Regions from separate parts of the Homo sapiens genome. Here region 2 is linked to region 1. The links come from fine-mapping of genetic effects on gene expression. Tissue or cell type: testis. Region 1 holds a variant in brackets; the other region holds the start of a gene. All regions are shown on one strand. Distances are from middle to middle.

The links. PIP is the estimated chance that this variant, and not a neighbour inherited with it, causes the effect.
Region 2: it holds the start of RADIL, and the variant in region 1 is fine-mapped to the expression of RADIL in testis (GTEx, PIP 0.96).

Annotation. Positions count from the first base shown.
Region 1 is chr7:4,797,660-4,800,339 of GRCh38, forward strand. It overlaps RADIL (Rap associating with DIL domain), which reads right to left. Exons shown (of 15, transcript NM_018059.5): 13 at 2,512-2,651; 14 at 1,971-2,110; 15 at 1-1,824. The coding sequence ends at 1,719. Among named protein-coding and RNA genes, the nearest start is that of MIR4656, 10 kb to the left of the region's middle. RefSeq lists a silencer at 519-568. The variant T/C (reference allele first, on the strand shown) is at 1,528.
Region 2 is chr7:4,882,332-4,885,011 of GRCh38, forward strand. It overlaps RADIL (Rap associating with DIL domain), which reads right to left and starts at 1,385. Exons shown (of 15, transcript NM_018059.5): 1 at 1,265-1,385. RefSeq lists enhancers at 87-381, 111-799, 800-1,487 and a silencer at 1,197-1,416.

The DNA of each region.
Region 1 (2,680 bases):
ACACACGTTGTGGGACTCCTAGGAAAAGAAACAGAACAAGGCCAGGCATGGTAATCCCACGCCTGTAATCCCAGCACTTTGGGAGGGCAAGGCGGGCAGATCACTTGATGTCAGTTTGAAATCAGCCTGGCCAACGTGGTGAAACCCTGTCTCTACTAAAAGTACTAAATTAGCCAAGCGTGGTGGCAGGCGCCTGTAATCCCAGCTACTCAGGAGACTGAGGAGAATTGCTTGAACCTGGGAGGTGGAGGTTGCAGTGAGCTGAGATTGCACCACTGCACTCCAGCCTGGGTCACAGAGCGAGACTCCGTCTCATAAAAAAAAATTAAATATTTATATTTTATATAATAAAATATAAAAAATGTTTATAAAATATACGAATATATTACGTATACATGAATATGTAATATATTCATATATAATTATATATTTATATATATTCATATATTTTACATATCTTAAATATATATACAAACACTATATATATATATATATTTTATCCAGTATTTTGGGAACCTGGCAGTGGTCGCCGTTTCGAGCCAGGCGCAATGCGGAGCCGCACACAGAACTGCGGGTCGGCAGAGGGCGCGGGGCGGACGCGCTGCACCTCGCCGTAGCGCACACCAGGGGGCAGCGTGGAGCTGCACGAGGCCCAGGGCCTGGGACAGACCCAGGACACCGATCTGGGGACCCCGCACAGACCTCTGTCCCAGTGAGAGGTGCATCTGCAACTGATGCCGGGACCCTCTTCCCCAGGGTTTCTCTGTTGCTATCAAAGATGACCCTGGGCCACCAGTTCCACCACAGCCAGGAGGGCGCGGAAGCCACCCACACCCAGTTGGTGGAGCTGCTGAGGATGCCCAGCGACCCACGCTGTCACCCCGAGGCAGCAAGTGCCCTGCCCTGGTCCTGCGCATGGTCAGCCAGCTGGTGGAGAGGGACGCTGGCCTCCTGCCCGGGTTAGGGCCGGTGGCCAGGGGGACGCTGGTGAGGATTAAGGGCCTGGGGCCGCCAGCCTGGTATCAGGGCCACGCTGGTGGCTTTAGTAGGGGAGAGGAACTCAGGAGGGAGCAGGAGTCCTGGGAGAGGAAGCAGGGCCCAGGGTGGGCTCGGCGCCTCAGAGACCATCAGGCCGGTCCACTTTCCAACGCCTGGGTGTCTAGACCTTTCTCTGGGGCCTGTGCTGAGCAGCGGGATCAGAAGTCCAGCATCCTCTGCCAGGTCTGGCCCTGCTTCAGCTGGGAGGGGCTGTTGGAGCTGCTTCCTGCAGTGCCCTGTGTCTGGGTGGGACGGGGGCAGGGAGAGTCAGTTCAGATGATCCCCTGATGACAGCTGTCACTGCATTCTCCCGTGCCGGTGGCAGGCAGAGGCCATGGGGAGCCCCTGCGGCCCCTCCGAGCAGCCCACGCCTGCTGCCCGAGTTGAGACCCCAGCAGGGCACCCTCTAAGAACGGGAAAAATAGTTTATTGAACCGTACTTCTCCATTGAAGTCTTTAAACATAAAAGCTCTGTAACAAACATCACAA[T/C]TTCACGTCATCTGCCATATAAATAGAACCTACACTGAGATGCATGTTATCAACAGGCATGTCCCCAGGGTGAGGCTCCCCACCCGGGACCCAACTTGGTCAGTTACAAAACAGGGACGAAGGCGGGAGGAAGCCCAGTGTCACCAGGTGGGACCGGGTGCCGGGCCTGTGGGGGTGTCCTCGCAGCCCCCCTAGAGAGGGGGCGTGCGGAAATGGATCTTCTTGGCTGTTTCCACGTCGGACTTCGCGACCAGGAACCGCATCTTCTTCCCGCCATGACGGATCAGGTCCACAGCTCTGAAATCCATGCCAGAGGTGGGGGTGGGCAGGAGGGCACCAGGGGAGACCCACAGGGTGCAGCCGGGCCTCTCCTTTACCCCAGGTCCACTCCCCTGAGCAGGGCATCTGGGAGAAGGGGCCGGGCGTGCATGCGGTGGGGGTACCTCAGGTAGCCAAGGCCCAGGAGGCTGCTGCCATTCACCTCCAGGATACGGTCCCCCAGCGACAGGCGCCCGTCGGCCGCTGCGGGGCTGCCCGGGAGCAGGGTCTGGATGTAGAGCCCGGGGGCGCCCAGGTGCGTGTGCTGGGGACAAGCAGAGGCCTCAGAGCTCCGCAGGCCCGACTGGCTGTCCCCAGCGAGGACCACTGCAGCCCCTCCCTTGGCACCTACAGGCCCCCGCCTGGCATCCAGCCAGGCCCACTCATGGTTTCACGCGTCCCTCCAGAAAAGCAGTGGACACCACCGTCCCCACAGGCCCAGGACAGACCCCAAAGGCTTGAGGACAGAGGCAAGAGACAGCAGGCCCAGGGGGCGTGGCCGTTGGACAGGCTGGGTTCCCCTCCCAGCTGCAGAGGCCAACCCCACTCTCCTCCCCGAAGGCCTTCCTGTAGCCACGTGGCCACGCAAGCTGCGGCCAGGCTTGCATGAACAGGCGGGGCCAGGCAGCCAGTATGGGGGTGCGGCGAGGGTCCTGGGCCACTCACCATCCCGTCGATCAGGCCCATCCCCAGCCCGGAGGGGCCTCGTTCCAGCTCCACCGTGAAGACGTAGCAGAAGTCCTCGGTGCTGGAGCTGCGGCTGGACGGGGCTGGAGGGGACTCCTCCGCAAGGGCTGCAGAGTCTCCTGGGTGGGGGCCAGGAAAGGTGGGTGGG
Region 2 (2,680 bases), 85 kb after region 1:
TTTCTGGAAGTGCGACCGGCCTCTTCTGCCCCATTCGCTCCTCTGTGACACAAATACTTGGGGAAAGCGCAGGGCTCGGACAGCGAGGGTGTGGGGCGCTGGCTGGTGCTGCTCTTAGAGAATGTTTTCTCTTGTTCTCAAGGAAGGGTCCAGTTTCTGATGAAAAACAAGCTCAAGTCCCAGCGGCGAGTACAGGGAGTGAGGTCAGTGCTGCGCTGACGACATGGGTGGAGCGACCTCTCTGCTCCAACAGGACAATGTGGAACCCATTATCATTTCCAGCAGGAGGGAAAACGAAGCGCAGACTTTACACACTCAGCTCTCTCCCCTCCTTCCATGAATCCTATCTTTACAGCCCCAGCCCGAGCCACGCTTTCAAATGCAAACATAATTCAATCAGATTTAATTCTGACCTGCTAGCTGCTGGAGAGGAGACCGACTTGCCCCCCAGCAAAAGGGACTTTCAAGACTGGTTCCTGTCTGGAATGCACAAGAGGTGGCCTATATTAACCGCGGGACACGAGCAATCAGATTCTTCTGTGCAATTCAGATTAGCCAAACACTTGACAGGCGACAGGGCAGGGCAGGATGGTCCGCAGCCCCGCCAGGGCCCTGCCAACCCCACCAACAGGCTCCTCCTGCGAGGCCCCAGGAGCTCGGCTCAGCATCTGTTATCTTGGATGCAGTATTTGTCGAGGGGCTGGAAATGGTACATAAATAGCCGGGAAACAATGCTTTGAGCTGGCGCACGAGTGGGGATCGGGCTGCAACCGGGACGGGGTATGTGCAGGGGACGTCTCGCCGGCCCAGGTGGGAGAGCGCGCGGAACCCTGCGCCCCGCTCCCCCGCTGCGCCCCGCTCCCCCGCTGCGCGCCCCGGACGAAGCTCCCCCTCCAGGGCACAGCCGGGAAAACTGAGGGCCGAGAGTCCCCTGGAGTTGGGGGTCCGGGGCCCACGCGGACAGCCAGGCTCAGGAGCTCTCGGGGGTCGGCAGCGCGGACCCCCGGATCCCCGCAGGCTGGGCCGCCCTTGCCCGCGCTAGCCGGCCTCCGGGTACCGCCCCCCGGTCCAGGCCGGGGCCCGACAGCCAGTCGGTTCCCATGGCAACTGGGCAAACCTGCCCTCCGCGCCCCGACCAGCGGCCGGGAGTGTCCCCGAGCGCGCCCCGCGGCCTCCGCGCCCCAGGTCCCCGGCAGCGGCCGAGCAGCGCCCCTTACGAGCCACCCCCGGTTCCGCAGTCACTCCTCGCGCACCCCACACTCACCTCCGGCACAACCCGCCGCGCCGCCACGTTCCCGCGCTGCTCCCACCCGCCGTTGGCTGGGGCCGGCGCCCAGACCCGCGCGTGCCGCGGCGCCTCCTGCCGGCGGCGCAACGGGCGGGGCGGGGCCTCAAGGGGACGGGGCCACAAAGGGTGGGGCGGGGGAGAACAGGTGGGCTGGAGCTGGGCCTCGGCGCCCAATAGGCAGAAAGAAAGCCTCGAGGAGGCGGGGTCTCCAGGAGAGGGGCGGGGCCAACCTGCTAGAAAAGGCGGGCTGTGCTCTGGCGCCTCCTGCCGGCCGCCCAATGGACGGGGATGCAGCCTCGAGGGGGCGGGGCCTCACCGGAGAGGCGGGGTTTTGAAGAAAGGGGTGGGGCTGGTTGTGGAGAGGCGGGACTTGCAGCCCACCCACAGACTGCAGCTTAAGGAGGGGGGGTCCCCGGAGGAAGGGTGGGACCAGTTCTAAGTCCCTGAGCTGCTTGTGGGCTCTGGGCTCCTGCGGTTGGGTGGGCTATTTCGAGACAGCACCTTCTAGTAGCCCAGTGAGTGGGTGTAGGGGAGGGTAGAGCTGTGCCCCCAATTAATAAACATCTTCTAAGACATCGAAAAGGAACAAGGGAGGAATTTCCTCTCCCCTACCATCTGTCTCCCACCCAGAGTTTTAAAAGACAAATCAGGTCATGGCATTCCTGCTTACAATTATGCAAAAAAATGACCAGGTCAGCTCTGGGGCTCTGGCCCCAACTGCTCTCCCTGGGGACTTGTTTAAAAAGCAGCTCGTGACCTCGGCACTTTGGCTGGGGTTTTCCCTTTGAGGAATGTGGGCTAGACCTGGGAGATTCAGGTGGTTCGGAATATCAATATGCAGAATGTGGGCCTCGGGAGTGAACCTTTTTGTGGACAGCTATCGTGGTATGATTTCCGTAGTCATGACCCCATATTCGCGATGGAGGTCGGAGCAGACATTGATGAGTGTGGGAACAGACATTTATTGACCACCTGTGTGCCAGGCCCTAGGCAACTTTACCTAGGTCACCTCACTTAATGCTCACATCAATTCTTGTGAGACAGAGATGTCTGAGACATTCCAGGCCTCCCCTTTCCTCCACCTATCACCTGCTAATCCTAAAGTCCACCTCCTAAACCTTTTCTAATAAAAAATAGTGCCTCAAAGTCAACACAGAGAGACAGATTTGAGCCAGGCTCCTGTCTCCTTATTGATCAACTCACAATACGGACAAAAAAAGCTTTTGTCTCAAAAACTTAATGCAGTAAGATTGGCTTTTTTTTTTTTTTTTTTTTTTTTTTTTTTTGGAGACAGAGTCTTATTCTATTGCCCTAGCTGGAGTGCAGTGGTGTGATCTCAGCTCACTGCAACCACCACCTCCCAGGTTCAAGCGATTCTCCTGCCTCAGCCTC